Homo sapiens: one gene and its partners. The protein of the gene in region 4 interacts with the protein of the main gene of each other region in a biochemical or structural test. Each region holds a gene or a part of one and is shown on either strand. Other genes may lie near its edges.

What was found.
Region 1: of the proteins of H2AZ1 (region 4) and RNF168, one has a biochemical effect on the other in vitro, tested with the Homo sapiens proteins (3 studies listed by BioGRID, with this or other methods).
Region 2: the proteins of H2AZ1 (region 4) and ZNF24 form a complex in vitro, tested with the Homo sapiens proteins (one study listed by BioGRID).
Region 3: of the proteins of H2AZ1 (region 4) and USP16, one has a biochemical effect on the other in vitro, tested with the Homo sapiens proteins (one study listed by BioGRID).

What each region holds. Positions count from the first base shown.
Region 1 is NC_000003.12:196,479,763-196,486,787, reverse strand, and holds part of RNF168 (E3 ubiquitin-protein ligase RNF168), read left to right. Parts: intron 1-2,896; coding exon 2,897-3,018; intron 3,019-7,025. UniProt on the Homo sapiens protein: E3 ubiquitin-protein ligase required for accumulation of repair proteins to sites of DNA damage. Acts with UBE2N/UBC13 to amplify the RNF8-dependent histone ubiquitination.
Region 2 is NC_000018.10:35,341,406-35,349,011, reverse strand, and holds the start of ZNF24 (zinc finger protein 24), read left to right. Parts: upstream 1-4,591; 5' UTR 4,592-4,652; exon of another isoform or gene 4,653-4,958; intron 4,959-7,606. UniProt on the Homo sapiens protein: Transcription factor required for myelination of differentiated oligodendrocytes. Required for the conversion of oligodendrocytes from the premyelinating to the myelinating state.
Region 3 is NC_000021.9:29,020,661-29,027,670, reverse strand, and holds the start of USP16 (ubiquitin carboxyl-terminal hydrolase 16), read right to left. Parts: upstream 3,004-7,010; 5' UTR 2,894-3,003; intron 2,844-2,893; exon of another isoform or gene 2,594-2,843; intron 1,963-2,593; exon of another isoform or gene 1,900-1,962; intron 1-1,899. UniProt on the Homo sapiens protein: Specifically deubiquitinates 'Lys-120' of histone H2A (H2AK119Ub), a specific tag for epigenetic transcriptional repression, thereby acting as a coactivator.
Region 4 is NC_000004.12:99,947,569-99,954,603, forward strand, and holds H2AZ1 (histone H2A.Z), read right to left. Parts: upstream 2,708-7,035; 5' UTR 2,603-2,707; coding exon 2,600-2,602; intron 2,173-2,599; coding exon 2,095-2,172; intron 1,819-2,094; coding exon 1,705-1,818; intron 1,373-1,704; coding exon 1,243-1,372; intron 956-1,242; coding exon 894-955; 3' UTR 520-893; downstream 1-519. UniProt on the Homo sapiens protein: Variant histone H2A which replaces conventional H2A in a subset of nucleosomes. Nucleosomes wrap and compact DNA into chromatin, limiting DNA accessibility to the cellular machineries which require DNA as a template.

The DNA of each region.
Region 1 (7,025 bases), on a different chromosome or scaffold from region 4:
TAACAACTTTTTTATATGTAGGAAAGCTATTCAGTGAAGAATGAAAGCTTCCTTTTTCCTTCTTCCACCTCTCCACTCCCGTTCCTTTTCCATTTATATCAGTCTCTATCCCCAAAGGTAACCACTATTAACAGTTTCTTACAACTTTTTTCTTGCCAGGGTGCGATGGCTCGGGCCTGTAATCCCAGTACATTGGGAAGCTGAGGCGAGAGGATCGCTTGAGCCCAGGAGTTTGAGACCAGCCTGGGCAACAAAGTGAGACCCTGTTTCTTCAGAAAAATTAATAATGAGCCGAGTGTGATGGTGCGTGCCTGGAGCTCCACCTGCTGGGAGGGGCTGAGGCAGGAGGATCCCTTGAGCCCAGGAGTTTGAGGTTACAGTGAGCTGATCTCGCCACTGCACTTCAACCTGGAAGACCATCTCAAAAAAAAAAGCTTTTTTTCTTTATTGACCTAAAAAGGATTATATAAAGCAATCACACTGTTTTGCTGCTTACATTTTTTCCACTTGATAACATCGTAGAGATTTTTCATATTACTACATGTAGTCAATCTAATTCTTTTAAAGAGTGGAATAATATTCCATTTTATGGATGTAAATCACATTTTGAAAGTAAGGCACATTAAATTTTTAGATAATGTATTAAACTTGGATGTTCTGCTTCCTGTAGTTAAATTGCTGCCTGTAAGAAAATGAATTAAATGGTGTGTGATAAAACACATACTTTAAGATCAGAGGGTACTGTGGGGCCCAGTGGTTTGAACGAGCCTGGCAGAGTAACCTGGGAATGCTGTTGAAATACAAACTCTCATATTTACTCCAAATCTATTAAGTCAGAGTCTCTAGGGATGGGACCTAGGGAATACAATCTTCAGAGGCATGTAGGGAAGTGTGAAACATTCAGGTTTGAGAGCCTGTGAAAACAATTCTTCAGCTTTCAAACAACGAATATCTTAACATACACTTACCATTGAATCATGGGAAGTTCAATAGAATAAAAAAATATATATGTATATACACTTAGCAAAATGAGTATACGCAGAATTGGGAATTTTTTTCTTTTTTGAGAGGCCTACCATTAATAATAATGTACCCAAATTTTGGGTTATATGCCCCTTTTTATGTGTCTTTTTTAAGTAGAATCGCTTTAGAAATACACAATCAGGAAACTAAATAAAAGTCATTGACCAATGGAATAATAAATGGAATAGGGAAGAAGTATATCTAGTTTTCCCATGGTATTATAAGAGTAGATTTATTGATACTGTAGAATAATTTTTTTAACTTTTTTTTTTTTTGAGACAAGAGTCTCACTCTGTCACCCAGGCTGGAGTGCAGTAGTGCAACCTCAACTCCCGGTTCAAGCGATGCTCCTGCCTCAGCCTCCAGAGTATCTGGGATTACAGGTGCCGCCACCACATCCTGTTAATTTTTGTATTTTTAGTGCCGATGGGGTTTCACCATGTTGGCCAGGCTGGTCTTGAACTCCTGGCCTCATGTGATCCACCCACCTCAGCCTCCCAAAGTGCTGGGATTACAGGCATGAACCACCATGCCCAACCTAGAATAATTTTCTATTTATTTATGAAAGTTTGGTGGTTTAAGGCCAAATATTCACCATCACCATATATGAACTTTTCCATTAGGGTAGTAAGAAACTTACGAGACTGGTACAGCAAGTAAATATTTGTGATTTTTATTAATACGCCCTTAAAGTCCAGAACTAAAATATTATTACATAAAACTATTCTTTTGGGTATATCCACAGCTCTCTGAATATGTCCATATAGATAAAAGTAATTATATAAAAGTATTTATTAGAAAAATCAACAGGCTGGGCACAGTGGCACAGACCTATAATCCGAACACTTTGGAAGGCTGTGGTGGGGGAATCACTTGATTCCAATAGTTGGAGACCAGCCTGGGCAACATAGTGAGACCTCATCTTTACAAAGCATTTAAAAAAAAGTAGCTGGGCATGGTGGCACATGCCTGTGTCCTAGCTACTCGAGAAGCTAAGATGGGAGGATTGCCTGAGCCCAGGAGGTTGAGGCTACAGTGAGCTATGATCACTCCACTGCAGTCCAGCCTGGATGACAGAGCAAGACTCTGTCTCAAAATAAAACAAAAACAACCCACCTAACCAAGCCTGGTGGCTCATGCCTGTAGTCCTAGCTACTTGGGAGGTGAAGGTGGGAGGATCACTTGAACCTGGGAGGTCAAGGTTGCAAGGAGCCATGATTGCTACACTGCACTCCAGCCTCGGCGACAGAGTGAGACCCTGTCTTAAAAAAAAAAAAAAAAAAAAAAAAAAGGCCGGGCGCGGTGCCTCATGCCTGTAATCCCAGCACTTTGGGAGGCCGAGGCAGGCAGATCATGAGGTCAGGAAATCGAGACCATCCTGGCTAACACAGTGAAACCCCATCTCTACTAAAAAAAATACAAAAAATTAGCCGGGCATGGTGGAGGGCGCCGGTAGTCCCAGCTACTCAGGAGGCTGAGGCAGGAGAATGGCATGAACCTGCGGGGGTGGAGCTTGCAGTGAGCCGAGATCGCGCCACTGCACTCCAGCCTGGGCAACAGAGCGAGACTGCGTCTCAAAAAAAAAAAAAAAAAGGAAAGAAAGATCAACAGGAATTATCAGCTAATGAGGTTAGTATTATGCCTTATTTTGTGCTTGATGTACAGTAAAAATGTAATTAATTTAGACCAACTTGGATGAACATAGTTTATTCTGATTTTTGCATGGTCAATATTCTTCAAGAGATGTACAGAATTTAAATATAACTATAATTTCTGAAAAATGCTATGGATTTCTGAATTAGTCAAATTAATAGCTTATTTTATCATAAAGTTCTCTCTCATAATGTCTGTTATGCTTTTTCTATTGTTGAAGAACAATTTCTGTGAGGGAAGTATCTCGGCTTCTCCCTTGAATTCCAGAAAATCTGATCCAGTTACACCCAAGTCTGAAAAGAAAAGTAAGAACAAACAAAGAAACACTGGAGATATTCAGAAGTAAGTGAACATGACTATGAATTATTTGTTGACCTCCTACTGTATGCCAGTGTTTTCTGTTCATATAGACTACTACTGATTCTCAAAGTTTGGTCCGTGAACTTTGTATGAAAATAGTCTGAGGTTGAGGTAAATTGAAAAGGAGAGAGCTACTCACACAGCTTCCTCTTGGCTTCTCACTCAGCCACTTACTGTGGCAGATTCATACTTTTATCTTACTGCCTCAGGATTTCCAGTTTTCTCAAAGTGAACCATTGGATTCCTCTTTCTCTTGGTTTAAATTCAGATGAAAAAAATGGGTCCCAGATAGGCTTATCTTCACTGAAAGAGTTTACAATTTGTCATTTCTTCTCTATTACACAAAATGCATGAGTCAGGTAGACAAAGGTGGCGTGATTGAGTTTCACCACAACACCCCTCCAGGGTCAGGTGCCAGGTGGAGTTGGTGGCTTTACGCAAACATCAGCTTTCCCATGGTAACTCACAGTTGGAAAAGTTTAAAAACCACAGTCTAGACTTGAAAAATACATAAGGACTTCTGGTTCAACTGAGGAAATATGTGCAGGTAACTCATCTCCTTCCAAGATTTGTTGAAATTTTGTATTTGAGGTGGGAGGAAGCTTAGGAGAAGAGAATGTTAAATGAGGGAGGTACTATTAAAAAAAAAAAAAGATGTGACAATATCAGTGTCGCCAGTACTCATAATGTGCAAAGTAAAAATGAGAAAACCGCTAAAATGCAGAAGTATTTCATATTGATACAATATGCTGTTTAAGGCTATAACTCATGAATCTTTATATATCTAAATATATACTTTGAAATACATAAAAATAAAAAATTACCAGAGATACAAGAAAAACTAAGGATTTAAAAGCAAAAATTGAGAAACTGATGGATTAAAGTTGTAACAATATTAAAAACAGATAAAGTCTGTTTTCTAGAATATATGAAAACTCTTATAACTCAACAACAGAAGACAAATAATTAAAAACTGGACAAAGGGACTTGAGTAGACATTTTTCCCATGATGTACAAGTGGCCAATAAGTACACGAAAATATGTTTAACATCATTAGTTATTAGGGAAATGCATATCAAAACCACAGTGATATAGCATTTCATACCCATTAGGATGGCTATAATCCACAAAAAGGGAAAATAATAAGTGTTGACAAAGATGTGGAGAAATTGGAATCCTTGCGCATTGCTTGGTAGGAATGTAAAGTGGTATCGTGGCTGCAGAAAACAGTTGGTGATTCCTTGAAAAGTTAAACGGAATTAGCATATGACCCAGCAATTCCACTCCTAGGTATGTACCCAAAAGAATTGAAAGCAGGTATTCAAACAAATACTTGTACATGAATATTTGTGTCAACATTATTCAAATAACCGAAAGGTAGAAACAACCCAAATGTCCATTAACAAATGAATGGGTAAACAAAATGTGGCATTCCATTTTATGTGAATTACACCTCAATTCAAAAGTTTAAAAATGAATAACAGGATTATATAGTTTTAAAATTAAGAAAAATTTCTAAACAACTTGTTGATTAAAGAGTAAATTTTGTTGGAAATACAGAACTGAAAATATGCATGAAAACTGGTATGTGGCTAAAGTGGTATTTAGAAGGCTTTACGTGCCGTATCAGAAAAGAAGAAAGGGCAGCCAGGTGTTGTGGCACGTACCTGTAATCCCAGCTACATGGGAGGCTGAGGCAGGAGGATTGCTTAAGCCCAGGGAGTTTGAGTTTGGGACCAGCTTGGACAGCATAGCAAGATCCTGTCTCTAAAAAAAAAAAAAAAAAAAAGCCAGGGACAGTGGCTCATGCCTATAATCCCAGCACTTTGGGAGGCTGAGGTCTGAGGTGGTAGGATTGCTTGAGGCCAGGAGGAGTTCAAGACCAGCCTGGGCAACATAGTAAGACCCTGTCTCTACACAAAATAAAAAAATTAGCCAAATGCAGTGGCACATGCCTGTAACCCCAGCCACTTGGGAGGCTGAGGTGGGAGAATTGCTTGAGCCCAAGAGGTCGAAGCTGCAGTGAGCTATGATCATATCTCAAAAAAAAAAAAAAAAAAAAAAAAAAACGCAGCTGAAAACGTATTTAAAAAGACAATTCCAGGAATACATTGCTGGTTTAATGGTAGAAAATGAATCACTGTAAGTTATTCAATTAGCTGTATAAATATGAAATACACGAGATGATAATTCTTAATGAAGTGGTAACAGAAAGAAACTTTCTTAACCTGTTGAAGGATATCTACCAAAATCTTACATCACATATCATACTTCATAGTGGAACATCGAAATTATTTCCTTTTTTTTTTTTTCCAGACAGTCTTTCTTGCCCTGTCACCCAGGCTAGAGCGCAGTGGTGCGATCATGGCCCACTGCAACCTCAAACTCCTGGGTACAAGTGATCCTCCCGCCTGGGCCTCCCAAGGTGCCTGGATTACAGGAGTGAGCCGCCACGCCCCGCCATTCCCCTTGTAAGGTCAGGAATACGCAAGGGTGGCCTGCTACTCTCCACCTGCATTCAGACTCATGCTGGAGAGTTTAGTCTGCACAGTAACACAATAAAAGGAGATAAAACATATCAGCCTGGAAAGGAAGGAAAAAGCAGCTATCATTCTTCAGAGGCGGTATAATTATCTATGTAGAAAACCCAAAAAGTCAGAGGTACATTTTTAGAATGAAGAGTTTAGCAAGGTTGCCAGATATAAAATCTGTACAAAAAGTCAATTGTAAAATGTAACTTTAAAAATACTCTGTCGATAGTAGTATCAGAAAATAAAAGTACTTAAAAATAAATGTGTTAAAATCTGAGGCAAGCATGGTGGCTCATGCCTATAATCCCAGCACTTCGGGAGACTGAGGCGAGAGGATTGCTTGAGCCCAGGAGTTCAAGACGAGCCCGAGCTGCACAGGGAGACCCTATCTCTTAAAAAAAAATTAAAAAATTAACCAGGCATGATGATGCACACCTGTAGTCCCAGCTGCTCAGGTGGCTGAGGCAGGAGGATCACTTGAGCCTGGGAGGTTACGGCTGCAGTGAGCTGTGATTTTACCACTGCACTCCAGCCTGGGCAACAGACAAGACCATGTCTCAGAAAAATAAAAATCTGTACGACCCGTGGAGAAAATTGTATTATATTAAATATACAATATTCATGGGTTAGAAGATGCCTAATACTACAAAATGGTCAGATCTCCTCAGACTGATCTATAGAGTCAGTGCAATTCGAATCAGAATTCCAACTTTTCAAATTTTTCTTTTGAGACGGAGTCTCGCTCAGAATCACACAATACTAATCAATAAAGTGTTTAGAGATGCAAAAGTGTGGCAAATCTGTTTTAAAAAGTAAGATATAAGAAACTCAGGATAGTATGAGGTGGGAGATGACGAGGCCCCATAGGAGACTTTCAAACCAATGATTTCTTTTCCCTTCAACCAAGTAATAAGCATATGGGCTTTCATGGTAATACAGATTTTTAAACTTTTTAGAAGAATAACACATTTTTTTGTTTTGTTTTTAATGGACCACAGAGCAGCAAACATATATTTTAAAGTGCACCAGTCTTCGGCACCATAAGACAGGGTAAAAAAGAAAAAGTAAAAAATTTAAAAAGACGGTGCACCAATCCTAAGTATACTTTCTGGTGAATTTTTGTGTGTGTATAAACCACCCACCAGATGAAGACGGAATATTTACAAAGGTTTGCTTGTGCCCTTTCCCTTTCCAGTCAGTGTCCCCCTCCCCGTGACCGTGCTGTACTGTGATTCTTACATGTATTGTATGACTGTTCTCTCATAAACTTTGTTTTCATGAGGCAGACTTGGAAAGATCTTAAGACATTAGTGAAAAAAGCAAATCACAAGCCGGGCGCAGTAGCTTATGCGTGTAATCCTAGCACTTTGGGAGGGTGAGGCAGGCAGATCACTTGAGGTCAGGAGTTCAAAACCAGCCTGGCCAACATGGTGAAACCCCGTTTCTACTAAAAATACA
Region 2 (7,606 bases), on a different chromosome or scaffold from region 4:
AACAAACTATGATAGATACAAGTGGAATATTACTCAGTAATAGACTGGAATCGACTATTGATACATGTGACAACACAGATGAATCTCAAAGGCATTATGATGAATCAAAGAAACCAGCCTTAAAAGATAACATACTTTATGATTCCATTTTTATTACATTCTGGACAAGTCAATACTATTGTGACAGATGACAAATCTGTGGTTGCCATGAATTGGGATGTGGCGAAGGCATGAGTACAACTTGATGGAGTTTTATAGAATGATGGAACTATTCTGTGTCATGATTTTGGTGGTCGTTTCACAAATCTAAAACTCAGAAATATCTGCCCCCCCAAAAGTGCCATATTTTGCTGTCTGTTAATTTTATTAAGAGAAGAACTCCATAAATAGAGAACAAATAATGAAACAAATAAACAAAGCCAAAAGTTGATTCTTTGAAAAATTAATAAAATTGATAAGCCTCAAGCAAAACTTGAAGTCTTGATTAAGAAAAAAGAAACCAGAAATTAGCAATGTCAGGAATGAAAGAGGGGACATCCCTACAAACATTAAAAAGATATTAAGGAACTCACATTAATGATATTAAGGAAATAATTGTGAACAACTTTATGCCAATAAATCTGACAACTTAAATGAATTAGACAGATTTCTTCAAAGATACAAACCATTTCCCCTTATATCTCATGGACCAGAAATGAATCACATACTCATTCCTCGGTGCCAGCAAGGCAAAGCGAGGGTCTGGCACAGGGAAGCAGAATGGTCATGGATAGCTTAGCTCAATTACACTTTATTGCTTACAGCTGGGCACACTGTTCCCCCTCTCCATCCAAAAAAATCAGGAGTGTATTAGAAGCAAGGGAAAGCACTTTGTGTGGGAAGCTAACGATGCTTGCCTATTAGGTTTTCAGTCACTTGCAATCAAAAGACTCCTCATACTGTATACTTACTAGCTAAAATGGAATCTTTAAGCAATGTACTTAAAGTGCCCAGAGGGAGATACTTTTGAGCTGAAGGGGACTGAGAGCTCCAAAGCCTGGAAAAAAAATCAGTCTTGGATGGAATCTGATAACACCAAATCTGAAGGTCTATGCTTTCCTTCCAGTGTGAACACTTTTTTTTTTTTTTTGATCAGGATCTCACTCTGTCCACAAGGCTTAAGTACAGTGATGCGATCAGAGCTCACTGCATCCTCAACCCCTCAGGTTCAAGAAATCCTCCCACCTCAGTCTCCTGAGTACCTGGGACCAAAGGTGCAGGCCACTATGCCCAGCCTGAAAACTTTTCTGGCTGGCTTCCTCCATTTCAGGGTGCCTCCCTTCCCTCTTAGCACACTATCTCATTTAGGAGCCCTTACAGGCCTTCTGCTTTTCTCTACTGTAGCACTTCTACACTGCCTTGTGAATACTTGTTTTTTTCTGTTGTTGTTGTTTATTTCCTTAACAAGATGGTAATGTTAAAAGAAGGAATCAAACTGGACATGGTGGCTCACAACTGTACTCCTAGCGTTTTAGAAGGCTGAGGCGGGAGGATCCCTACCAGGAGTTCCAGGCTGCAGCAAGCTGTGATTATGCCACTGCACTCCAGCCTGGGCAACAGAGTGAGATCTCATCTCTTTTAAAGGGAAAAACAAAGACGGAATCATGACTTCATTTTATTCATCTCTATTATCTCTGGTACCCAGGTAGTATCTGTCTGGTCATTTTGTTCGTTTTACCATTAATTAATGAATCAGATGTTTGGTATCAAGGCAAGGTTGAAAGATTTGGCTGGTAAAGAAATGAACCCTTTTTGAATTTAGACATATTATTATTTGCACAGACATTGAAAGCAAAAGCAAGTGCCAGCTCTCCATGAGCTTTTGTCTCAGATACCAAAATGATGACACCAAAACAGAAGGGGCTGGATGACTACAGCATACACTGTGGACACCTTGTTGCTGAGGGGTTAATGCCATGCTGCAGCTAAGCCTTGTTATAACCTGCAGCTGTACTCTAAGAGGGTAAGGCAGAATGGCTCGTTGGAACCCAGGAAGCAATAGAAACTGCCTCATGATAGTCTCTTTGGAAGACAGAGAGCTGAGTGGGAAATGGCCTTGCACTAGCTGCTTACAAGCCTCTCATGCACTCATCTTCTGGGAAGATCCCAAGGTGTTCTGCCAAGACTCAGATCAGCTGTGGTTCAGGCATTGCCTATGTGGCCTATGTGGATATGTGCAAGGTTGTCAGGCCCGGGTATGAAGCTGCTCCCTCCATTCAGGTTGTCCAGAGGAACATGTTTTATCTTGACTAGATCTTTAAGATGGCAACAAGGGCCACCATTCAGGAAAAAATCCCAGAGGACCTCAGAAGGATGGTGTTTCAAAGCGGGTGTTAGTAGCCCCTGCCCTCAAAGGAGTAACTTAGTGAGGAAAACCTTACTGTGGTTTCCATTTAGTAGTTTACAAATAATTAATAATAATAGAATGGAGGCCAGGCACGGTGGCTCATGCCTGCAATCCTAGCAATTTAGGAGGCCAAGGCAGGAGGGTCACTTGTGCCCAGGAGTTGGAGAGCAGCCTGGGAAACATAGGAAGAACTCATCTCTGAAAAACAAACAAACAAACAAACAAATTAGCTGGGCATGGTGGAGCACACCTGTTGTTTAAGGACTTATCAAAAGTGTAAGTCCAGCCTTCCATAAGCATTTCAAGATAAATTATTACAGCATAAAATGGAGGCCTTTAAATAGGAGAATGAAGTGGTTTGATTTGTAATTTTAAATGATTGCATCAACAGCTGTTTTATGGTATAAAATGCCCAGTTAGGAGGCTGAGGCGGGAGGATCACTGAGTCTGGGAGGTTGAAGCTGCAGTGAGCCAAGACTGCACCATTGCCCTACAGCCTGGGTGACAGAGCAAGACCCTGTCTCAAAAACAAAACAAACAATATAATCACAGGAAAAGGGTTTTGTAAAATTTTGCAACATTTTTAACTTCCTCAAGGTTAGGTTTCAGATTTATTATTTTTGTTTTCCAACATTAATTAGATGTAAAAACTCTTAAAACAAAAATGCCTTCAGCTAGCCTTTACAAATCAGATAAGAGGGAAAGGTTGGGAAGAGCAGCCAAGTTGCTTAGGGGCCGTATCCAAGTAGCAGAGTGAAAAGGCTGTACTTCTGAAGCTTCCTGCAATGGAGAGAAGTGTTAGCAGGGGTTGTGAGAAGAGCTCTGGTCGGAATGAAAAGCAGTGGTATACCATCAGCTGCTCGCTCACTTGCTCTCTCATGCACGAATCCAGCGGAGCCTGACGGCACTTTTCAGAGGGCATTTTCTCCAATGAGGCAAAAAGTCAAAGCCTGAGGATCTTGAAATGCTTATGTTAGGCTGGATCTACACTTTTGACCAGTCCTTAAACAACAGGGCTCCTTTGTGTGGTGTCTGATGCCAATCATGTGACCTAGCTAAAGGCAGCAATGTAACCATCCCACAATTCATTTATTTATTCAACAAATATTTATTGAGTTCTCTATTTACCAGGCAGTCAGCTTCCAGGATCTAGGATGGGATACTGTGGTGAGCAAGACAGACAAGGTCCCTGCCCTTAAGGGACTTAAAGACAAAACAAAACAAAAAATAAAACAAGTAAATAAATGAGATCACTTCCATTAATAACAGTGCCATGAAGGGTCATGCGCCATGAAAGGCAGGTGGTGAGGCTGAGGATCTTGGGCCACAATGAGCCGAGGAGCTGAGGTGACTGGGGGCGCCAGGGTCTGGGGGTGCGGGCAGGCAACAGACCACAGGGGACTTACAGGCCATTATAAGGAGTTTTTATGTCATAAATTATTATGACATAAATTGGAGGGCTTTAAATAGGGGAGTGAAGTGGTCTGATTTGTAATTTTAAATGATCGCGTCAGCAGTTGTTTTATGGTATAAAATGCCCAGCTTTAAGATGACCATGCATTCTACAAATTCACCGTGACATCACTGCCAAAACTCTTAACCTGTCTTATCTAGTTTTCCTGACAGATAAATAGGTCGGAATAAAGCTCCATGACATAACTAGTGGGAGCCAAAGATTTGAATCACGTCTTGGTTTCAAATCTTGCTACCCACAAATGAGTTGTGAGCTCTTGTCAGGTTATTTACTGTATTTGTGCCTCAACTATCTCAGCTGTGAAATGGGGATAATGAAAGTTCCTACATCATTTATTTGTGGAAAAAAAAATGACATGTAAAGCACGACGAGAGCGCCTGGCACAATGTAGTAAGCTTTCACAAACACTCACTTTCATTCCTTCTTGCAGGGGATTACTGAGAGGATCCACAAGATAATGCACGTGAAAGGGCTTGCGAAATTGTAAGGACTATCTTAATGGTAGAGTCCTCTTTATGTTTTCTTTTAAACGGTCCAGAGGACGCTGGGCTGTTCGAGGAGAGGCGCGAGGCCAAGCGCAGCCTCAATGCGGTCATTGTCGTGGGGCCGCCCCTCCCCCGCCCGGGGCGCTTCTCCATGGCAACGTGGGCTTTACCTCTCCCCGCCTCCTCAGGCCCGCAGACCGGAAGCAGCCCGCGCCGGGGGCTTCTGGGAAAAGGCTTGTGAACGGCGTTTCTGCGTCTGCCGTGGACAGCGAAGCTGCTGCGGTTCCTGAGCCGGAGGTTTGCGCCGGTGTGCGGGGAACGTTATGAGAGGGAGGGGGGACACCGGGCTAGGGTCTGCGGACCTCTTAGCAGGAGCCGGCGGGGAAGCCTGTCCGGGACCTTCCTCAGCTTCCCGGGAGGCGCGGGGAACAGGCCGCGGTCTCCGCGCCTAGCAGTTGTGGGGCGGGGAGGGGTAGGCGGCAGGCCTGCTTGGGTCTTCGGCATTTGCAGAGAGCTCTCTAACCCCCTGTGTCCTCCGAGACCCTCACCTTCCCCCTCCCCCACCGGCCGGTTTTGTTCTATTTCGAGGCCCTGGCGTCTCGCGGAGGGTTCTGGGAGTCGTGATGGGAGGGGGTGGTAGTGGGACGAGACTTGCGCGGGGCTTCTGGGATTTGTAGTCTCACCGGCCGCAGGCGGAAGTGCCGTGGTTCCGACGCTGTTGTCACAGGGTGGCCTTTGGTCATCTGAAATCCGCGGTCCTGAGTGCTGGGAAGAGGGGCTAGAGGACGTCGGGCCGGGGCCGGGGCCGGGGCCGGGATACACAGCAGGTCTATGCAGCAGTAAGGTGGGCGATCCACCTGGGACGAGGTACCCTGCCCAAACATTGTCGGGACCGTGGGCCTTCCCTCCATTTCCCACAAGCGGTATGCTCTACAGCATAAAAGGAAGAGAAAATTATGTAGAAATACTTGCACCGTTGATAAGCAGGGTCTTGGAATAGGAACGAATGAATGTTGGCTAGACCTTATGTATAAGGCCACCACACTCCAGGGTATTTAATTAAACCAGTATGTATTACTTGTCTGATAAGGCCTTTTCTGATTCTAGTCTTCATCTTGCTTGGGTTACAATAAGTTTTTTTAAGTTGTTATTGTTCAGATTTTGGGCCCTGAATAAATAAATAGGCTGAATGGCTCATTGCTAGTATGTGTCGTAAACAACAGCACGGGCATGATCGTGCAAATAATAAAGGTCCAGAAGCAGTATACAGTTTCACTGAAGGTAGAAGCTGGGGAAACTGTGAGTCCTCCAGTGTAAGGACAAGACACTGGACCACTGCAGGAAGTCAAGGTGCTTATGCGAGTGCCTTTTCTTAATAGAAGTTTCTGTGATTAATGCCTATCATTATAAATATAAATGTACGTATGGTGTGGTGGAAGACTGAATATTTACGTATTATGTGCAAGATAATTTTTCAAAATTATGTGATGTTTTTCACATATGATCTTTTCAATATTATGTGATCTGCTACTCAGCAAGTGAACATTTTTTCACATATAAGTCCAAGGAGTTCTTAAACACCTTAAAAATATTTTTTAAATGGTAAAGAAAATTTTTTTAAGCACATAATAATAAAGCGAACCTTCCTTTTGAGTTGACTTGTGTGTGTCAGGAAACACCAATCCTGAATTGGAAATAATGCGTTCCAGGGTCAGGCACATTTAGAAAGCACTGAAGTAGTCTGGTTCTTACTTGGATTCTTTTGATTATTGACATAGGGTTTGTCGTCTTAGTAGGTCATGATTGGCAAACTTTTTCTGTAAGCGGCCATATAGTAAATAAGGTCATGCATAACTCAACGATAGTGCTATGGTCTGAGAAATATGTTAGGCTATTTCATCCTTGTGTGAACGTCATAGAATGTACTTGCACAAACCTAAATGGCGTAGCCTACTACACACTTAGGCTATCTGGTATAGCCTATTGCGCCTAGGCTACAAACCGGTACGGCATGTTGCTGTACTGAATACTGTAGAGAATTGTAACACAATGCTAACTATTTGTGTATCAAAACATAGAAAAGATAAGAGTAAAATATGATATAAAATGTTTGAAAAAAAAAAAAGATATGCCTGTACAGGGCACTTACCATGAATGGACCTCGCTGGATTGGAAGTTGCTCTAAGAAGTCAGTGAGTGAGTGGTGAATTTGGAGGCCTGGGACATTATTGTACATTCCTATAGACCATATAAACACTGAACACTTAGGCTACACTAAATTTATTAAGAAAACATTTTTCTTCAATAATTAACCTTAGCTTACTGGAACTTTTTCACTTACAAACTTTTACATTTTTTTTTAACTTTTTTACTCTTTTGTGATAACACTTCACTTAAAATACAAACACATTGTACAGCTGTACAAATATATTTATATCCTTATTCTGTAAGCTTTTTGCTTTTTTTTTTTTATAGACAGAGTCTCGCTCTGTCGCCAGGCTAGAGTGCAGTGGCGCGATCTTGGCTCACTGCAGCCTCCACCTCGCGGGTTCAAGAGATTCTCCTGCCTCAATCTCCCCAGTAGCTGGGACTACAGGCGCAATCCACCACGCCCAGCTAATTTTTGTATTTTTAGTAGAGACAGGGTTTCACCATGTTGGCCAGGATGGTCTTGATCTCTTGACCTCGTGATCTGCCTGCCTCAGCCTCCCAAAGTGCTGGGATTACAGGCCTGAGCCACCGTGCCCGGCACAGCTTTTTGCTATTTTTAAATTCATTTTTTAGAGACAGGGTCATACTCTGTTGCCCAGGCTGGAATGCAGTGGTGTGATCATAGCTCAGTGGAGCCTTGAACTCCTGGTCTTTAGTGATCCTCCTGCCTCAGCCTCCTATAGTGCTGGGATTACAGGTGTGAACCATTGCACCTGGCCAATTTTTTTTTTCTTTTGGAACTGTTTTTGTTAAAAGCTAAGATAAACACATTAGCTTAGGCTTACACAGGGTCTGGATTATCAGTATCATTGCCTTCTACCTCCATATCTTGTCCCACTGGAAGGTTTTCAGGAGCAGTAACATACATGGAGCTGTCATCTCCATAATAACAGTGCCTTCTGTAATACCTCCTGAAGGACCTGCCTGAGGCCATTTTGCAGTTAACTTTTTTATTTAGTAAGTAGAAGGAGCACACTCTAAAATAATATAGTATAAAAAGTATAGTAAATACATAAACCAGTAACATAGTCGTTTATTATTGTTATCAAG
Region 3 (7,010 bases), on a different chromosome or scaffold from region 4:
AAAGTGATTCTTAGCAAGCTTAAGAGGTTTTCAATATATGTAAAGGTCAGGAGAGAACCTTGGTCATCTTACACAGATCTTGAACAGTCTCAGAACTTGATACTCTTAGGAAGGTGACTCCTCACTACATACATGTGAAATAATGGCAGCACTTTAATCAGAAAACTGATTTGCTTCCCTTCTAAGCTACCTTTCTTAGCTCTGCAGTCTATGCAAATTAAACTGATAATTTCTCTAATAAAAATTAAAAATAATTCTAACAACCTCCTGAAGGGAGTTAGAAAATTTCCAAAATGGCTTCAAAGCCAAATACAAAAAGTGATACACTGTTGTACATTTTCCACACCAGGATTTCCTATGCGTATCAGCTAAATGAAAATTGATTACAACTGCATTCTCAACTATTTACATTATTATATTATTGCCAAAACCACTTTGGAAGGCTATTTGACAAATCTAGCTGCACATCAAATCTTCACTTTTTTAGTCAACAATTCAAACTTAGAAAACATGAAAAGTGCTAAAAGTACATACAGGTCTACCTAATTATATAGAATTATAGATTTTAGAAATAAATACATAAAATAGCACCCAAGTTCTTGCCTCCAATCCAACTCACTCTAATCGATGTGGGAGTTCAGTACTAGATTCATCTCCCAGTTATGCCATTTTTATCATATCACTCTCTTGATCGGAAGCATTTAACAGTTTCCTGGACCACACTCCCTAAACTTTGCACTCATAGGCCTTTATAAATTCGGCCCCATTGCTCGGCTAATCCTGACTTTCTATTACACCTCAACAACAACAAAAAAAACCACTAAAGTTATAACTATATAGTGCTTTTGATCTTCAAAGCCCTTTCACAAACATTATCACATCGGATTTTCATAACAACACTTTAAATAGAGGCATTTCACTCAAGGAGAAAAGTCAGGAAAAAAAAATGGTGAAAGATCACACAAACGATGAGCTAAAAGGCAGATGTTGTCTGGGTGCGGTGGCTCACGCCTGTAATCCCAACACTTTGGGAGATCGAGGTGGGAGGACGGCTTGAGGCCAGAAGTTCAAGACTAGCCTGGGCAACAAAGCGACACTCTATCTCTACCAAAAAAAAAAAAAAAAAAAAAAAAGGTAAAATGCAGATGTTTGGGTTTCAAGACCACCACTTTTTACCTGCCAATCAAGTCTGTCTCTTTTTTTTTTTTTTTTTTTGAGACGGAGTCTTGCTCTGTCGCCCAGGCCGGAGTGCAGTGGCCCGATCTCGGCTCACTGCAACCTCTGCCGCCCGGGTTCAAGTGCTTCTCCTGCCTCAGCCTCCCGAATAGCTGGGATTACAGACGCCCACCACCACACCCGGCTAATTTTTGTATTTTTAGTAGAGACGGGGTTTCACCATCTTGGCCATGCTGGTCTGAACTCCTGACCTCGTGATCCACCTGCCTCGGCCTCCCAAAGTGCTGGGATTACAGGCGTGAGCCACAGCACCTGGCCAAGTCCTTCTCTTGTACTCCACTCCAAAACACTTTGTACCCTCCCCGCCTTGATGTCTTTGATTTCTAGCTGTAATATTCTATCTAAATCTTACCAATCTTGGAAGCTCTCCATTTCAAGGAAGCCTTAGACAATCATTCTACTCTAAATAAACCTCTCCACTGAACTTCCCCAGTATTTATGGTATGCTCTAGTCATCTTGTCCCCTTATCCCATATTCTAGTGAATTTCTTAAATCTTTAATCTGGGTTTATGTTATTTCTGTAAGCAGAATCTAAAGTTCTTAGAAAAATAAATGGTTTCAAGCACAGTTTTGGAACTGCCTATAATATCTAGCATAATGTTAGTACATAGCAGGTCCTGAAGAAATACTTCTTGCATTGAAATAGAAAAATAGAATAGTACCTGAGGCATAAAGGATGATTACAAGGTGCAAAGGTAGGTACATAAGAATGAAGCAAACAAGTTCTGGTGAAAAAGAAAAGGGTGAAAAATGAGAAGTCAGAAGTCTGCAGTAGTGAAGACAGCACTAGTAAATCTGGTTTGAGGATTGCAGCAGCTTAGACTCCATAGGAAAACTTGAAAGACGAATTGTTAATTACTGCAGGCAGAGGACAGAGGGGTCACTCCAGTGCTGCGGAAAGAGCCTCAGTAAAGTTCTGACAACTATAAAGGCAACTAATGAGTCATGAGGAGAGCATATTGTGACTTCCATCAGCTATAAAACATCAATAAACTTAATACACTTTTCAAGTAGTGTCATCGGATGAGCATTAACGTCTTAGTGAAATGACTCTTCGCAGGACTCCATACAAAATCTAAATCAAAGATAGTCTTGCCGGTTCTCATATTATTCCAAGTCTCTTCACTCTCTGCCCTCCCAGTCTTCCCCTGCCTACTCGGTTCCATTAAAAATGTAAGCGTGTGGAAAACTTTGTCAGCAGGTGTTAACGTGGCTTTCAAGTTTTGCGTATATCAATCCCCTCCTAGATATAGTCAATTGGATAAGTGACAGATCCTGCTTTTCCTACCAGCCGTATGAACACGGCTGCAAATCCAGCTCCAACCCATAGGGAAGTCCCTGCCACGCGCCACCCACCCATTTGCTCGGCGCCTGCCACACCTTCCCTCTCCTCCCCTTCTAACTGCTCCGATCCCACGGGGGAACCTCTGGGTCCACGGGGTCGAGAAGGCCGCCAGCAGCGGCATCTCATTGGCCAGCTTCTGGAACTGACAGAACATGCAGCCAATGAGATCGCAGTACCGGAAAGTAGCCGGGTTACGTGCTTAAGGAGAGCGGCCTTCAAGAAGAGAACGAAGTTGGGGCGGAAAACAGGAGCTCTCCCAGCGCAGAAAGCCAGGCGAGCGACGACTGCCAGGCAGTGGGACCAGAACTCACCCACGGCGACAGAGCCCATAACTGCATCCCCTCATGGGCCTTTGGGCTGGGCAGCCAGCTCCGTCTTCCTCCTGGTGACGAATTGAGAGCGACGGAGTCGAAGCCAGAGTGACCCCTGGAAAGCAATAACTTCCGGAACGCGGCATTATGGGAAGTGGCTAGGCCACCACCACCCCACCCCCACCTCCCGGGACCATCGGCTCTGACGCTAGTAAATCTGCGCCTGCGTGCGGCTTGCGCCGGATGTTCGGGTTTAGGGGTTTGGTTGTCAATGGGTTTTCTCGTCTCTGACATAACCACGAAGTTATATAAATGCTCCTGAAGTGTGGGCATCCGGTGGTGGTCTGAGCCTTGGAGTTTCCTAGATGGTTACCTTTCTGGAACACATTATATTTGGAGCTAAAAGGGGGAACGCTTAAATTTGTTTCCGTAATTCTGTCCTGTCGACTTCTAAAACTGAGTACCTAAGTTGTCTTGAATTTACCTTCCTGCACCATGTCAGAATAAAAAACGCAGCGAGTGATTTTTTGTTTGTTTGAGACGGAATATCCCTCTGTCGCCCAGGCTGGAGTGCATTCTTCTGCCTCAGCCTCCCGAGTAGCTGGGACTACAGGCGCACGGCACCACGCCCAGCTAAAATTTTTGTATTTTTAGTAGAGACGGGGTTTCACCAATTGGCCAGGCTGGTCTCCAACTCCTGACCTTGTGATGCGCCCGCCTCGGCCTCCCAACGTGCTGGGATTACAGGCGTGAGCCACCGCGCCCGGCCGCGAGAGTGAATTTTTAAAGCAAAACCGAAAGACGGTGTCAGATAAATTGCGGGGGAGGAGGGGATTTTCAAATATTTACTGTCCATTCTTTGAAAATTTGTAAGTGCGAGCCCTGGCGCGGTGGCTCACCCCTGTAATCCCAACACTGGGAGGCCGAGGCGGGTGGATCACGTGAGGTCAGGAGTTCGAGACCAGCCTGGCCAACGTGGTGAAATCCCGTCTCTACTAAAAATACAAAAAATTAGTCGGTCGTGGTGGCGGGCGCCTGTAATCCCAGCTATTCGGGAGGCTAAGGGGGAGAATCGCTTGAAGTCTGGAGGCAGAGGTTGCAATGAGCCAAGATCACTCCATTGCACTCCAGCCTGGGCAACAAGAGCAAAACTCCCTCTCAAAAAGAAAAAAAGAAAATATGTAAGTGCACACTTTGTGCCAAGCCTTTCCTCAAATGAATTAAACATAGGCCTCTCTGCCCTGGAGTCTTAGTTTAGTAGAGAAGATAGTAATCGCTACCGTGGGGGTCGGGGGAGTTGCAGATAGCTATAGAAAAATAGATATGTAAACAGGTAATTCACCATAAAAGAACAATTGGTCATAAAATAAATGTCCATCCTTACTAATCAGATAAAAGGAGTTTAAGATGGTGGCATACTAACCACCAGAGTAACATTTGGTTAAATTTGGGGGAAAACTAGCTCTCTTGCTTTTTACTGCTGAGATAATTTTTGTTTTATTTACTTATTTATTTATTTATTGAGACCGGGTTGCACTCTGTTACCCAGGCTGGAGTGCAGTGGCACGACCTCAGCTCACTGCAACCTCCACCTCCCGATTCTCCCACCTCACCCTCCCCAGTGGCTGGGATTATAGGCACGTGCCACCCCACCACACAGCTAACTTTTGTATTTTTTTGGTAGAGGCAGGGTTTCAGCATATTGGCCAGGCTGGTCTTGAACTCCTGGCCTCAAGTGATCCACCTGCCTCGGCCTCCCAAAATGCTGGATTACAGGCATAAGCCACCGGACCCGGCTTAGTTTCATCTTTCTCTGTATTCTGACAACATTATGACATTACAGTCCAAGAGATATTGGGCTGGTCCTTGTTTGGTCTCTGGTGATTTAGATGAGGCAGGACTGAGCCCCCACGAATGTATTATCTCAAAAAGTTAGTAGCAGCTACTGTGCAAAGTTCGAAGGCCCAAGTCAAATCCTGGGCATATCCACGGATGTGTGGTAGGGCATAGGCTCCAGCTCTCATGCAAAAAAGAACAGGAGTGGGATGAGATAATTTTTTAAAGCTTTCTTCTCCAAGCTCCAGAAATGCAGGCTTTTTGCCCCCACGCATTTTAAAACAGAGCCTTAGGGTCATTGTACCACGTGCTTCCTGTCAGAAAGCCTCTTCCCCCTGATCTTCCGGGGTTGGTATCTTATTGTCATTCTGTTCACACCTTATTTTTAATTTATTTATTTTAGAGACAGGGTCTGGCTTTGTAGCCCAGGCTGAAGTGCAGTCATAGTTCACTGTAACCTTGAATTCCTGTGCTCAAGTGATCCTCATGCCTCAGCCTCGCGTAGCTGGTACTGCAAGTGTGTGCCACCTCATCAGCTAACTTTTTTTTTTTTTTTTTGAAGTCACCGTGTCTCTACAAAAGCCTGCTGCCCAGGCTGGTCTCAAACTCCTGACCTCAAGCGATACTCCAGCCTCAGCCTCCCAAAGCACTAGGATTCCAGGTGTGAGTCACCACACCCAGCTTCTATACATGCCTTAAAAGTCACTTCCTTCCAGTTACAGGGCAATCTAAGTAACACAGTCATCTGATCACTCACATCACCTTACTTTACTTCTCTGCCCAGCAGTTTATCCACTATCTGGTAATTTTCTTTCTTTTTTTTTTTTTTTTGAGACAGAGTCTCACTCTGTTGCCCAGGCTGGAGTGCAGTGGTGCAGTTACAGCTCACTGCAGCCTCAACTTCCCAGGCTCAGGCAATTCTCCTACCTCAGCCTCCTGAGTAGCTGGGACTACAGGCCTACAGGCACACGCCCCCACACCTGGCTAATTTTTGTGTTTTTTGTAGAGTTAGGGGTCTCTGTTGCCCAAGCTGGTCTCAAACCCTGGGCTCAAGTGATCCTCCTTGGTCTCCCAAAGTGCTGGGATTATAGGCATGAGCTATCATACCCAGCCATAATTTTTTTTTTTTTTCTTTTTTTTGAGACGCAGTTTTGCTCTTGTTGCCCAGACTGGAGTGCAATGGCGTGATCTCGGCTCACCACAACCTCCGCCTCCCAGGTTCAAGCAATTCTCCTGCCTCAGCCTCCCCAGTAGCTAGGATTACAGGCATGCACCACCATGTCCAGCTAATTTTTGTATTTTTAGTAGAGACGGGGTTTCTTCATGTTGGTCAGGCTGGTTTTGAATTCCCAACCTCAGGTAATCTGCCCGCCTTGGCCTCCCAAAGTGCTGGGATTACAGGCATGAGCCACTGTGCCCGGCCCATAATTTTCTTTTATTTTTACCTTTATGTTTAGCCCTCTTCATACATACACAGAAATGTGCAAATATAAGCTCTTTGAGAGATGCGACATCTTTGTCTTGTTCATGGCTATAATTAGTACCTGGAAATGCCTGGAATATAGTAAGTGCTCGATAAATATTTATTGAAAAGAAAGTCATGAGCAATAAAATGCTATATAAGAACGTTCACAGCAGCTTTATTTATAATAGCCAAAAAACTGAAGACAGCCCAGGTTTCTATCAAAACAAGAATGGAACTGGTATATTCATATGATGGAATACTACTGAGCAATCAAAAGAAAGTGATACACATGATATCAGATGAAAATATTACCCTGAGTGAAAGAACCCTTACACAAAAATATCTATTGCATGACTCCAACCATATGACGTTCTATAACAAGAAAAATAAGTATGGTGGGGGAAAAAATCAGAACAGTGGTTACCTTTGGGGAGAACTGGTTGGGAACTAAGAAAGGGCATGAAAGAACTTTCTAGGGTGATGGTAACGTTCTATATGTTAATATGGCTTGAGTTCCATAGGCGTGTGCATTTAAAAACTGATGTGTATTTAAGGTATGCATTTCATTTTTACCTTAAAAAATCCTTAATTTGAACTCCAATGATGTGCATTAGAGGTACTTAGAAGCGTACTGTCTGCAGTTTACTTTTAAATGTATGAAAACAGATAGATTGATGAGGTATGTGACAAAGCTGGTAGAGTAAAATTCTGTACTCTCCAGGTCAGTGTTTTTCAACCTCAACACTATCAACATTTTGGACCAGCAAATTTGTTGTTGTCGGGGGATGTCCTGTTCATTGTAGGAAGTTGAGGAAC
Region 4 (7,035 bases):
AATTCTGCTAACTACCATAACTCGGTACTTTCAAATAAGAAACCCTGCTTCTCTTCGATAAAATGGAGATAGTATATCCCCAATGATGTTACTGAGTACTTAACAACTTCAGACTTCAAAGCAGGGCCTGGCACGTAGCACTATTATCTTTAAAGTTTAAATTCGGAGTTCATTCTGTGGATATACAGGACATTCCTACCTATTCTCTCCCTCCCCAAGTCCACCATGCTAACAGCATACTAGTGCAGTGCTGTCACACAGCAAGCGAAGCCAATGTACAAACTGAAATGGTCACACTTAGCCTAAGAAACTGACAATCCCACTCCAGCTCCTGCCAACTTTTTAAATTAAAACTTTAGTAGCTCATATAACATTAAAAAAATATACTTGGGCTATCTCACTTTGTTGATCTACAGATTTGACAGTTCAGTCACAAAGAAATGTGCTTAGTTATTGCTGCTAGATGAGATACTCAAAACAAGTTCCTATTACAACCAAGCAAATTTAATACACAACTAGTTTGGGATATGACCTTTATTGAACTTATCCACCAGAGTGGAAATAATGTCTGTACAAAACCAAATGTTTGTTACTATAACTTCTGCATCACAATTAAAATCCAAACAGTTTTTTAAAAACAGTCAACTCAATCAAAACCCACTACTTCAGAATCAATAGCTTCTTTGAAGCCACAGTAACACTTAAATATGGTTAAGACTCGAATGCAGAAATTTGGTTGGTTGGAAAGCTAATTAAACTTCCAACTTGCTCAAATAGAATTACAAAAAGGCAAAATTGTGTTTTTCACAGAGATACAGTCCACTGGAATCACCAACACTGGACAGCTGTTAGAGTATTTAGAGTCCTGAGATAACAAGGAATCCAGGCATCCTTTAGACAGTCTTCTGTTGTCCTTTCTTCCCAATCAGAGATTTGTGGATGTGTGGAATGACACCTAGGAGAGTGACAGGAATTAATTCTACTTAAGATTTTTTAAAAAATCACAGTATTTGAAACCAAGAAAGTGTATACTGTTCAACTTGAAAGGTATCTTTAAAAACATGCAGCTCAAGTATGAAGTAAAAATTCATTGAGTTATACATATAAATCAAATTTCATGATACAACCATACTTCCATCATTGAAAATATACTTAAATTTCCTCTCCTGGAAAAACTAATTAAAAGCAGCAAAAAATTCCTTCCTCTGAAGAAATTTTTTAAAATGTTAGAAGTTAACATACCACCACCAGCAATTGTAGCCTTGATGAGAGAATCCAATTCTTCATCTCCACGAATAGCAAGTTGCAAGTGACGAGGGGTAATACGCTTTACCTTTAAGTCTTTTGATGCATTTCCTGCCAGTTCAAGTACCTAAAAGGCAGAATCTGTCAGTTGCCTTCCAACTTTCCTTTGGCCAAGATTCAGAGAACAGAATAAAACCCTCACAAACGCAGATCTACCAACTGGAATCGTTCCTCACTATCTGACTGGCAAGATATACAGGGGGCACGCAATTTTAATTCCAAGAGCAGAGAACTCAAGCTCAGTAGGATCCTTGTTGAACACCAGCTCCCTCTAGCGTTCTCTTAGGCCTCTCGCCGCGTTCAGGGCCTGGGAGTTTTCTTGCATCACTTTCCTCCTTCCCTCTTGCCGCCTCCCCGCCCCCCAAACCTTCTCCGGATTATAGGCGTTCACCCATTTACCTCTGCGGTGAGGTACTCCAGGATGGCTGCGCTGTACACAGCGGCAGTCGCGCCCACACGTCCATGACTGGTCGTCCTAGATTTTAGGTGTCGATGAATACGGCCCACTGGGAACTTAAATTTTAAGCATACACAAACATAAATGCACAAAAATGAGAACTAGAGATGGGGAAATTATATGCGCGCCAAAGCAAGGGGCACGGGCGCAGCAACGCGTCCCGACATCGAAACACGTGATTCCTCCCCCCCATATTTATCGTATGGGCAGCCCAAGTCGCGACACCGCATCACCCACGCATACACAAAACGCCCATCGAGAGCGATGAATAACAAAAAAGGAAATGCAAAGAAAAACATCATGACTCCCAGACTGCACGAACAACTACTGACCTGCAAGCCGGCTCTCTGCGAGCGGGAAACCGCCTTTGTCTTGGCCTTTCCGGAGTCCTTTCCAGCCTTACCGCCAGCCTGCGGCGCGCACACGCCCGCGAGCGGAGGAGGAACGGAGAATATAGAATTACCAAGGCGGCGCGCCCATCCCCCACCGCGGCGCGTCCCGCCGCGAGCGCGTCCCCGCACCCTGCCGGGGTCTCCGGCCCGCGGCGCGCCGCAGGGGCGACCCCGCCCGTTCGCCCCCCGCCGCGCGCTCGCCACGGCCGCGCGCCTCCGCCCGCCGGCCCCCAGCGGCGCTGCGCGCGCCACCCAACCGTCGCCGCCCGCCGCGAGATCCGAGGCTGCTCCGCTAGCAGCCGACAAAACACCTCCCCCCACTCTTCTAAATCCTGTCTCCGCGCGTTCCCAACCGTCGCCACTTCACCCCCATCCCTCTGTGTAACGGGTTTTTCTCTCGCCGGCAAAAACCCGCGGAGTCATCGAGCGTCTCTGCGAAGTTTACCATTTCGAATTCCGCTGAAGCTCAAGCAAGCAAGGCAGAGAAAAGGCTAATCGGACCCACGGTGAGATCCCACCACCTACTCCTTCGTCGCACCGCGATTCAAACTGCGCTGTCTCCCGCCTTCCCTGCTCCCTTTATACTGCAGAATGTTCCCTCATCCGGGAACTCGGATTGCTCATCCCACCAATGGCTGCCACCCGCCCTCGGGACGCGTCCTTGAGACTTCAGCCAATGAGCAAGCGAAGAAAAGGGTGGAGGGGCGGGCGCTTCTAATCTCAAGCCGCGATTGGGGCGTGGGGGGAGAGGCGGGGGAAGGCGGAGGGATGGGAACGGGGGAGAAGAAGGGCACCGCGGCGGGAGGGAAGAAACAGAGCGAGCTACGCTGCAGGAGCGCAGTTACCAGCCGGCTGCGATCACGTGCCTGGGAGGAGGAGCTGAGACCTCAGGGGAGGGGCGCGCGGTAGCGTCCCGGGTCCCCTAGCAGGGCTCTAGAGACCACGTGAAGTCTCCTCGGTATGTAGCACGCCGCCCCCACCACTCCCAGCCCCATTCCCAGCGCCTCTCGGGCGGAGACCTGCGACCCGCAGCCGCTTTCCGGGGCCCCGGACACCCCTTCCCTACCCTCTCAATCCCTGGCGGCTCCTCCCGTCTGACAGGTGGCGCGAACGCGTCCAGTGAGAGGAGTCTGAGGTTTGCCCTGACGCCTTCCACAGCCTTAGTAGAGATTCCGTGTTTCTTCCGTCTAGGCGAGTCCCCAGCCACCAACAGATCACGACCCGCTGCTCCCACTTTATTTTCAGCCGGGTCTTCCACCTCTCCCTCACTACTTATGAAATCCTCCACGGAATAGTTCTGTGACAGCAAACGGTGAAGCCAAGTCACCTCACTGGTCACGAAACCCTTTTTGTCTATACTTAGGGAGCTTCTGGCGAGGCAGTATTCTTTAATCAAATCATAAACCATATTTTTTGGAGACTACACATCAATGGGTTGTACCTGTAGCCTGGTGTGTAAAGCTCATTTAGTGAAACCTCAGAGCTATTATGTGTCAACTTTTCTACAGTAAGTATTTTGCCACATGACAAATGTTCGGCAAATGTCGATGGAGTAACTCTGACATGATTTTCAGGCAGTTAGAGGGTCCATGCAATGCAATCAGTTGCAAATGATGAGGTTAAAGTAATGGTACTGTACACACAGTACTATCCTTCCAACTAGTAGGTTATTAACACCTATGTACATCTCCAGCTGCTTGGGGACAGTAGTGTCTCAATCTCATTTGCAGTGTTTTAGTGTATTACATTTTTTAACATAATTGAATAGTTTCAATGTGACGAACATTTTGAAACATATACTCTATGCTGGGCATGGTGGCTCACACCTGTAATCCCAGCACTTTGGGAGGCCGAAGCGGGCAGATTACGAGGTCAGGAGTTCAAGACCAGCCTGGCCAACATGGTGACACCCCATCTCTACTAAAAATACAAAAATTAGCCAGGCATGGTGGCGCCCGCCTGTAATCCCAGCTACTCTGGAGGCTGAGGCAGGAGAATTGCTTGAACCCGGGAGGCGGCGGTTGTGGTGAGTCAAGATTGCGCCACTGCACTCAGCCTGGGGAACAGAGCGAGACTTTCTCAACAACAACAACAACAAACATATACTCTGAAGTACTTTAGATTGGGTTTCAATTTGAAAGATTTTATCGAATTAGAGGACCTCCCAATTTCTGTGAGATAAATTCTAGAGAAGAGCTTCCCAACAATTTTGACATTGAGGTTTATTATTTCTTGGAACCAAGGAACTCTTATGATGTCGTCGATAGCAAGACTTCAGCCGTTTTCCTACTGATAATATAATAATGATATATTAAGCTATGAAACCTGATAGTTAACGATGGCTCCAGGGAAGCTTTGTGATATATAAAAAACCAACATTAATGCCATCTCTAGTTTAGATAATACTCTGCCAGCTCTTTGCTATGAAGCCCCATAAAGGGAATTTACTGTTGCCTCGCTGAATAGTGGTTAGGAGGATGAACTCAGAAGCAAGTACAGATGGATTCTGTTCTGCCTCCTCCTCACTGTGTCATCTTAGTTACTAATCTTTCTGAGCTTCGAGTTCCTATTCTGTGAAAAGATAGTATCATCTATTTTCACATGGTTGAAAGATTAAGGAAAAAGGTATGCAATGTACATAGTAGCATGTGTTTGGCACGTAGTTAGCCCTCAGTAAATAACTGCTATTATTTTCTACATTGGATGCTGGAGAGGGATGAAATAAAGTATCTTTTATTTCTAAATCTTTTTTGCTATTTGGTTTATTTTCTTTCTTCGATTTGGAAGCAGCAAGCTTGAAACCTGCCCAAAGTATACACAACCAAGTCTTCCAACATCCAAACTAAAATCCAAAATTGGTTTAATAACTCAATAATTTTCCTTCAGAGAACAGGACAGTATTACTTTCTGCACTTTTCTCAGAGTGGTATGATGATTTCCTACTCTTTTTCCTGCCCCCCCCAGAAAAGGTATGATGCAAATATGTTAATATTGTTGGTTTATCTTTCCAGTTCCTGTGTTAATAGTAATGCATGTATATAATGTACTTAGCCAGAGCTATGTAATTACTTTTGTTTAATGCCATACCCAATTAGTTCTCTCACCATAAAAAAATATGAGATGCCAAGGCAAGAGGATCACTTCAGCCCAGGTGTTAAAGACCAGGCTGGGCAACATAGCGAGACCCCATCTCTACTAAAAATACAAAAATTAGCAAGGCATGGTGGCCCCTGCCTGTGGTCCCATCTACTCGGGAGGCTGAGGTGGAAGGACCACTTGAGCCCATGGTTGCAGTGAGCCATGATTGTGCCACTGAATTCCAGCCTGTGTGATAAACTGAGATCCTGTCTCGAAAAAACAACAAAAAATCCTCAGATGAGGTAGGCGAACCCACTATTATTGACACTTTCCTTAATAGCCTTTTCCTAACTAAGCCAGATTTTCCATGACTAGTTGCTATCTCCTTTGAAACACTAGCATGTATGTTAACTACTATTGTTCTTGTCTTTTTATGTAGAGAATTTGAGAGTCTTACAATTGGGAATTATAAATTTCTCAACTACATCTTGCCTTAAAAACGTATTTTTAAGAAAATATGAATAAGTTCTCAAGTTATTTCCAAGGATATTAGCCTAGATCGATAATGGCGGCAAAATTCTTTTCATCAGGAAATCTACATTAGAATCTTGGTTCTCTCTACCTAGGGCACCTAGGAAAAATATGTGCCTTCAAGGATTCACACAGCTGTGAATAACTGAGTTCCAGTGTGGTATTATGCAAAATATTGAACTAGAGTAAAAGAATGAGGGTTGAGTTTGGGTAGCCACTTACTTGCTATATGGCCTGAAGTATGTAAAACACTGAGGCACAGTTTCATTTATTAAATAGGGATTCGTAACACCAGATAAACCAACTTGATAGAATTGTGAAAGAGTTTCGTTAAGTGCGAAGAATATGTAGAGTGATGTAATAATATTTTTGGCACCGAGGCCATAGTCCTTCCTGAATTCTGTTTAGGTTGAGAAGCCTATGTGTTTAATTCAGTGTTGATAAAACCAAAGCCATCGATTTAAATTCCAAATTGCCCAGCTTTGCACTTCTCATGATCACAGATTGCACACAGGTAACAATTCACAAATGCAGGGAATAGATGACAAAGATCAGCAGAATCTACTCCACCCAGATCCACTGCCATTTCAGGAAAACAAAAGATCATGCTTTTAATATAGCACTAATTTACTTTTTCCATACATTAGTCCTCAGAATTTTTGGAAATTTATTGTTTTAAAATTAAAAAATCAAGATTCTTATCATATCCTTTTATTATCTATTATTGATATCAATATCGATCTTTAGGATTTTCAGGGCAGGGGAAGGGAGTCCATGTGTTGAAATTTTTTTCCTAAATAATAGTGTATTTGCCTAGGCAGTGGGTCCTCCTTCTCTGTATTCCTGTGTTCTACATCTATGGATTCAACCAACTGAGGATCAAAAATATTCACAACGTAAGCTGGGTGTGGCCAGGCGCCGTGGCTCACACCTATAATCCCATCACTTTGGGAGGCTGAGGCGGGTGGATCACTTGAGGCCAGGAGTTTGAGACCAACCTGGCCAACATGGTGAAACCCTGTCTCTAATAAAACTACAGAAATTAGCCATGTGTGGTGGCATGCACCTGTAATCCCAGCTTCTCAGGAGGCTGAGGCAGGAGAATCGCATGAACTTGGGAGGCAGAGGCTGAAGTGAGCAGAGATCATGCCACTGCACTCCAGCCTGAGTGACAGAGTGAGACTTGGTCTCAAGAAAAAATAATAATAATAAGCTGCATTTGGGGTGTGGCAGTTCATCCCTGTAATCCCAACAATTTGGGAGGCTGAGGTA